2 linked regions of the Homo sapiens genome follow. The protein of the gene in region 1 interacts with the protein of each later gene in a pairwise test. Each region holds a gene or a part of one and is shown on either strand. Other genes may lie near its edges.

Region 1 (3,827 bases):
ACTTGTGACATCAGACATGTAAGGGTTGTTGCCCCATACACCAGATACTTCTTCAGTGGACACCAGCTGCATGTCCTCTTATTCAGTTCAATTCTGACACTGTCTGCCTGAAGATAGCATCAGATCCCACAGGTTAAGGACTCAGTCCCACAAGAGTGCCACCAACTTCAGATGCCCATTACAAGTAGTAGATTGCCACCTATACTTCTGACCACCAAGCTATAAATTGGGACTCCCACTGCCCCCTCCTTGGGTTCAATTAATTTGCTTGAGTGGGTCACAGAACTCAGAGAAATACTACTTACATTTTCCCATTTATTATAAAGGATATTACAAAATAAACAGCCAGAGGAAGAGTTGCATAGGGCAAGGTACGTGGAAAGGGGTATGAAGTTTTCATGCTCTCGCCAGCATGCCATCTTCCAGACACCTCCACATGTTCAGCTAATTGGAAGTTCTCTGGACCCTGTCCTTTTGGGGTTTTATGGAGGCTTACTTATGTAGGCGTGATTGCTCACATCATTGGCTACTGGTTATCAAATCAATTTTAGCTGCTCTCCCCTCCTTAAAGGTTGTGGGGTTGGGCTTAAAGTCCCAACCCTCTAAACATGCCTTAGTCTTTCTGGTGACTGGCCCCCATCCCAAAGCTGTCTGGGTGTCACCAGTCATCTTATTAGTAAACGAAAGACACTCTTATCACTGTGGAGAACCCAAAGGTTTTAAGAGCTATGTGATAGGAAACAGGAGGAACATCAAATATATAGGTTAAAAGAGAAATTATCAACACATTAAATTTAACAGTTTAATTGAACAAAGAATAGTTCACAAATTGGGCAGCCCTCAGAACCAGAAGAGATTCAGAGAGATCCATTCTGCAATGTAGGCAGGCAGCATTTATGGATAGAAAAGGGAAGTGAGGTACAGAAATAGCTTGATTGGTTATAGCTCTGTGTTTACCTTATTTGAACATGGTACGATCACTTGACTGCCTGTGATTGAAGCTCAGCTGCTATGATTGGCTGAGACTCAGCTATTACAAAAACATACTCCTAAGTTAGGCTTTCAGTTAGTTTACCTTCTAAGTTAGGTTGCAGTTCATTATGTAGAGACTTAAAGTACAGAGGCACTTTCAGGCAAAATTTAGTTTAATTTAACATACAGTCATGTGTCCCTTAATGACAGAATTTGCTCTGTAAGATGCGTTGTTAGACAATTTCATCATTGTACAAACATCATAGAATGTACTTACACAAACCTAGATGGTATAGGATAGCCTGTTGCTCCTAGACTACAAACCTGTACAGCATGTTACTGTACTGAATACTTTAGGCAGTTGTAGCACCATGGTAAATATTTGTGCATCTAAACATAGAAAAGGGGCTGGGTGTGGTGGCTCACACTTGTAATCCCAGCACTTTGGGAGGCCAAGGCACGTGGATCACAAGGTCAGGAGTTCGAGACCAGCCTGGCCAATATGGTGAAACCCCGTCTCTACTAAAAATACCAAAATTAGCCAGGCGTGGTGGCACGTGCCTGTAGTCCCAGCTACTCAGGAGGCTGAGGCAGGAGAATCGCTTGAACCCAGGAGGTGGAGGTTTCAGTGAGCCGAGATCGTGCCACTGCACACCAGCCTGGGCGACAGAGGGAGACTCCCTCTCAAAAAAAAAAAAAAAAATAGAAAAAGTACAATAAAAATATGGTATAAAATGTAAAAAAAGTATACCTGTATAGAGCACTTACCAGATGAATGGAGCTTGCAGGACTGGAAGTTTCTTTCCCAGTTAGTCGGTGAGTGAATGTGAAGGTGTAGGACATTACGGTACACTACTGTAGACTTTATAAACACTGTACACTTAGGCTACACTAAATTTATTAAACATTTTTTCTCTCTTCAATAGTAAATTAGCCTTAGCTTGCTGTAATGTTTTTACTTTATAAACTTTAAACTTTTTAAAAACTTTTTGACTGTTGTAGTAAAACTTAGCTTAAAACAAACACATTGTACAGTTGTACAAAATTAATTTCTTTATAACCTTATTCTATAAGCTTTTTTCTATTTTAAAAACTTTTTTACTTTTTAAATGTTTTCTTAAAAACTGAGACGCAAACACACACATTAGCCTAGGCCTGTAAGGGTCAGGATCATCAGTATGACTGCCTTTCATATCTTGTTCCACTGGAAGGTCTTCAAGGGCAATAACATGCATGGAGCTGTCATTTCTTATGATAACAGTGTTATGTTCTGGAATACCTCTTGAAGGACCTACCTGCCTGAGTCTGTTTTATAGTTAACTATTTTTTAAAAAATAAATAGAAGGAGTACACTCTAACAATGAAAAGTATGGTATAGTAAATACATAAGCCAGTAACACGGACATTTATTACCAAGTACTATGTACTCTACATAATTGTATGTGCCAGGCTTGTGTACACCTTGTAGCACAGTAGGTTTGTTTACACCAACATCACTACAAACATGTGAGTAATGTGTAGCACTATGACATTATGACATATATGATGTTACTAAGTTATAGGAATTTTTCAGCTTTATTATAATCTTACGGGACCACTGTCATGTATGTGGTCCGTTGTTGACCAAAACATTGTTATGTGATGCGTGACTGTATGTATTTCACAATATCACATATATGAAGATGTTTGTCATTCCACTATCCCTTTCTAATATCAATTTATATAGCATTAAGACTTGAGCTACTCTAAATCCTTGGATTAAAAACTACTTTAACCTAATATCTTATTTCATTAAATTTTTTTTCTAAAAAATAATTTCTGTTTTCACATTTTCAGCAGTGACTATAGGGGAAATTAAGGTACTAAGCAAAGATAGCATCATTATTAATGTAGCCTTGCTCGAGATCTATACATCTTATAATATTTTTTGTCCAAAAGTTTGTAAAGTTTATAATTTTTGTACTGTTTTTAGACTAAATGTACTTATAAGAACAACTGTGTATCATGAAAATCATTTTTGCATACACCTAACCTTGCAAATGTAGGACTCTTGATGTTAAGGACTAGTATTGCTCATGCAGACATTTTTTGTTGAGATACTAACTAGTACATTTTACATTTTATGTTATTTATGATTAACTCATTCAATAAATGTTAATTATTTACCATTTGCTAGGCTCTGTTCGAGGCCTACAGTGTGCTATATACTGTACGCACACTGTAGGCACAGCACACTGTATGCCTAGGATAGAAGAGGATGTCATTTTTTTTTTTTTTGTGAGATGGAGTCTCGCTTTGTCACCCAGGCTGGAGTGCAGTGGCGCGATCTTGGCTCACTGCAAGCTCCGCCTCCCAGGTTCAAGCTATTCTTCTGCCTTGACCTCCTGAGCACCTGGGATTCCTGGCGCTTGCCACCACGCCTGGCTAATGTTTTGTATTTTTAGTAGAGACGGGGTTTCACCATGTTAGCCAGGATGGTCTCGATCTCCTGACCTCGTGATCTGCCCGCCTCAGCCTCTCAAAGTGCTGGGATTACAGGCATGAGCCACTATGCCCGGCTGAGGATGTAATTTTTAAGGACTAATCAAGTCACAGTGCTAAACCATTCTGAGCCTTAATGGTCATGAACTTTACCTTTCTTTCATATAGGAAAAGAAATATTTTTATATGAAAACATTTAAAGGAATTTGACCAAGGTCTCTTTCATTAACAAATGCTTTAGTTCCTTCTGGAAGATCTATACTTCAATAAAATTGATTTTGTAAATAAGAATAGTAGACACTGAAGTTTGAAGTGATCAGATGTTTTTCATATAGCATGAGACAAATATGAATGGATTTCAGAAACGATATTTA
Region 2 (3,827 bases), on another chromosome or scaffold:
GACTGCTGGAAAGCTTTTCTCTGAATTGTGAGATGCGCAGACTGCATGACAACTAGTAAAAGATTATCCACCTGGGAGGAAAATCAAGCACAGGACATAAAAACCAACCCAGTTACTAGTTGTTATTCTAGTTCAACACCAGTCCAAAAACAATGCCAATCTCAGGGATACCAGGCCAACAACCATCTAATCAGAAAGTCATTTTTAAGCAAAGCTTCTCCTACACAGCAACACGCTTCAGTGGGCATTGACAGCTGGGATATTCAGCACCACGGAGAAGAACCCTTTGGGACTGCAGGCATGACATCTTTGAGATATCCTAGAACTTCAAGTAGTTCAGTACTGCCAGTGCAGAGTGTGTGTGAGTGTGTGTGTGTATGTGTGCATGTGTGTGTGTATTGGAGCAGCATATGAAGAAGGAAAATGTAGGAATAAGACAGAAATAAGATGAGGGGCCTTATATAAAACATTAAGAAATCAAGACTTTATTACTTTTGTTCTTAAGAGATGAAGAATCTTTGCAGTATTTTAAGTAGATCTGTGATGCAATCAGATGTATTATAATGATCATTCTAGAAGCACAAAAACAAACACAGAATTGGAGAGACAGAAGGTGAGGTTTGAAGCAGGGAAACTCAAAGTCAGAAACTGCAATAGTTCAGGAGAGGGATGGTAAAGTGCTGACTACAGCAGCTGCTCTGGGGATGCAGGGAAAGGATCATTTACTGGAAATGCTTCTGGCTTTCCAGGGCAAGGTATTAACTGGAAAGATGGGAGGCTGAATTTATATTAGCTGTCACACTTCTGGTTTAAACATGTGAGTGAACGCGGAACCATTCACTGAGACGGAATATAAAAGCAGAGTTGTTGGGGTGAGGGATACAGCAGGCCAGTGTATACTCAGTTCTGGTGAGGCTGAGCTCAAGGTGCATATGAACACTCACCATGACTGTTCCTAAGCTGAACACAGATAAATGAGAAAGCTTCTCATAGTTTATAACTAATGAGTTATAGAAACTGTCACGAGGTCCCTGTTAGGTAGGGAGGGGATAGCCTTCACTACAAAAAATTAAAATTAAATAACCAGTAAACCTGAGTACTTGGAGAACTGGGATTTCTAGAACTACAAATTATATTAGTGACATAACTCCTTTTAGATCATAGCTCCACAGATCTAACTACATGACTGAACTAAGAAAAGATATAAACCAGATAGATGGTTTATTTCAAGTATTCCAGTATAATTTAACTTAACAGAATGATATATTGTACAAATTATGCTGCAAAATGACCTATTAACACATTGAGGCATATTTTTGGGAAGTATATACTTGTGATTACTAGGGTAGTCAAACCCCTCATTCATGAGCAGCTAACAGTTCATTCTTACTAAAAGTCCTTGAAGTAACACTGCTGCAAAGATGGAGATGAGCTGTACCTGCATGCTTCTCAGGGTGTCAACAGTCTCCACCTGAGGCACGACTTTGACAGGCTGTGCCTCCCAGGTGCCCCAGCTGTCCTCTGAATCACGGGCTCGATCACCGTGCTTGGTCAGAAGCAGATAGGCATCGATGAGTACGTCATCTGAATCTTTTGAACAGTCCTTTCCTGCAGCTGCATTGAGTAACTGCAAAATAATACTCTTCTCCTCAGCAAGAGTGTCTGGAACAAACATTTGCAAGTTTTCTAACCCAGGAATTTGCACCTGCAAAAGACATAATCCAAAATCTTAAGGAACACTGTACATTAGAGAAATAGGTTATTTAAAACAAACCTAGGAAAGGAGAGGCAGGTTTGGGAAAGGGAAAGTGGGAAGGGCATGAATTGGAGCAGTGAGGGAACTGCAGGTAGCCGGCTTCAGTGTGACTGAAGGAGGCAGGAGGAGGAGAGTCTGTGAACGCACTGGAGGAGAGGCCTTACAGAGTCTCCCCGATTATTGGACATCCTCCTCACTGCTTTATTTTCAACAACAAAGAAAATACTCGACGGGGAGGCAAGGCAGCCTGAAAGAACCTCAACCACTGCTAGTTTGTGATGCTTACAAAAAGTCACCTGGCTTGGGAAAAAGGCAAAAATTGTTAATACAGATTCTCTAATTATTCCAGGGCAGGGAGCCAGGGGTTCATCACAAGAAGGCTCCTTGAGATCAGTTTCTCAAAGGGTACACATGTGGTGGCACGCTGCAGGTCATCCCTCCCACTCTCAGTATGGGAGCGGGATACAACTGTGGGCTTGGGATAAAATGTCCAGTGATGACATCACATACGGATTCTAACTGTGCTAAATCTCCAACAACTTAAAGTGGAGTAAAGTTGCTGACTCAAAAAGTGGCTCTAGTGATGACCAGGATCTTGATGTCAAAGATTCACTGTAAAACCTTTGAACTGCATCAGGAAATATAAGGGTGAAAAACAAAACCATAATTTAAAATGAATATTATCTCCTTATACACATTATTTTAAATATGTGTAACTAAATTAATAAACAGCATGAGTAAACTTTTTATTATTTATCTACACTCTGAAGACAAGTTAGTAAGTCAAGTATGAAAAAGACTGTTTCATTATTCCACTGGTGAATTACAGGACAGTCTTACAACTGGGGTTGTGGTACAGCCTTCAGAGCCTGTAATATTTACTATCTGGACCTTCAAGAAAAAGTCTGCCTGTTTTAGAATAAAGAAGGAAAGGCAAAATGTTTCAATCACAACATTTGAAGTACTTACCTTGACATACTGTTTTGATTTCAGAACATCCAGGAGGTCTCTAACTGGGGCTGAAAGCCTGAATTCTGCTGCTATTTCCAGGTCCTAGGATCACAGTTACAAAGAAACTTCTTTACGGTTAGCATTAAAAAAATAAGATAAAAGAAAAACAAGAAAAAAGGTACTAATTAATCAGGATTGCAAGCTCACCTTTCTCAACATTTTAGCAAATCCAAGTGCTTTGGAAGCCCTTTCTCTGGCTTCATGGAAGAGCTCCTTCAGGGCTCGACTGATCTCTATAACAGACCTCCTGCCAAGTGGATTCAAGTCCAGTTAGAACACATTAGGGAATATTCCAGAGGTGCAAGAGGGATTTAACAATAAAGATGAAGCAAATTCCAAATCACAGTAATAAATAAAGACTGAGGATTTTTTAAATGGGAACAAACTATTATTGAAGATGTAGTCAAAACATTCAGAAGCCTGCTCCTGACAGTTTTGTAGAAAATATTCATATCCTTTCAATGTAAGCAGGGCACATTTAATAACCTTCAAATAATAGGAAGCTCAATTTTCTTAACATTTCATTATGATCATTTCTTGGAGTTTAAGGTTAAGTTCTTAACTCCTGGCTCGTAATCTAAAAAGAAATCTATACAGTGTGATCTGGGAAATATTTAACAACTGGGTGACCCTAAATTACTATCTTATGTAATGCATGCCGATTTCTGTGGTGTAAATACTCCCATCATAGCTAATTTCAAGGCAGCAGTATGATGTCCCTGAGCAATGAAATGGGAAGAGATGTGCATGATCAGCTCTCTCAAGCCGGGAGAAGCAGCTCCAGCACACCACTGCCCATGGCCCCCTGAACTGGAACCGCTCTCTAGTTCACCATCTTCATTCCTGCCTTCTCATGTTTCTTTGGAATCTACATGCTTGGGGTTATTTTGAACCCACCATGTTAGCTCTCAAAACTGTGAGACCTACAAACTTATTTATTCCATTTCTCAGCTATTCAATATTTTCCCAGGTGAGAAACCATGTGGGAACTTCTTTCTTTAACCTTGGCATAAAAACATACCAGGTGTTCTGAAACTCAAAATGTGTTTTTCATCAAACC

What was found.
Region 2: the proteins of CNTRL (region 1) and MAP3K4 interact in a two-hybrid assay, tested with the Homo sapiens proteins (one large-scale study listed by BioGRID and IntAct).

What each region holds. Positions count from the first base shown.
Region 1 is NC_000009.12:121,081,312-121,085,138, forward strand, and holds part of CNTRL (centriolin), read left to right. Parts: intron 1-3,827. UniProt on the Homo sapiens protein: Involved in cell cycle progression and cytokinesis. During the late steps of cytokinesis, anchors exocyst and SNARE complexes at the midbody, thereby allowing secretory vesicle-mediated abscission.
Region 2 is NC_000006.12:161,085,566-161,089,392, reverse strand, and holds part of MAP3K4 (mitogen-activated protein kinase kinase kinase 4), read right to left. Parts: intron 3,015-3,827; coding exon 2,915-3,014; intron 2,810-2,914; coding exon 2,726-2,809; intron 1,706-2,725; coding exon 1,439-1,705; intron 72-1,438; coding exon 1-71. UniProt on the Homo sapiens protein: Component of a protein kinase signal transduction cascade. Activates the CSBP2, P38 and JNK MAPK pathways, but not the ERK pathway. Specifically phosphorylates and activates MAP2K4 and MAP2K6.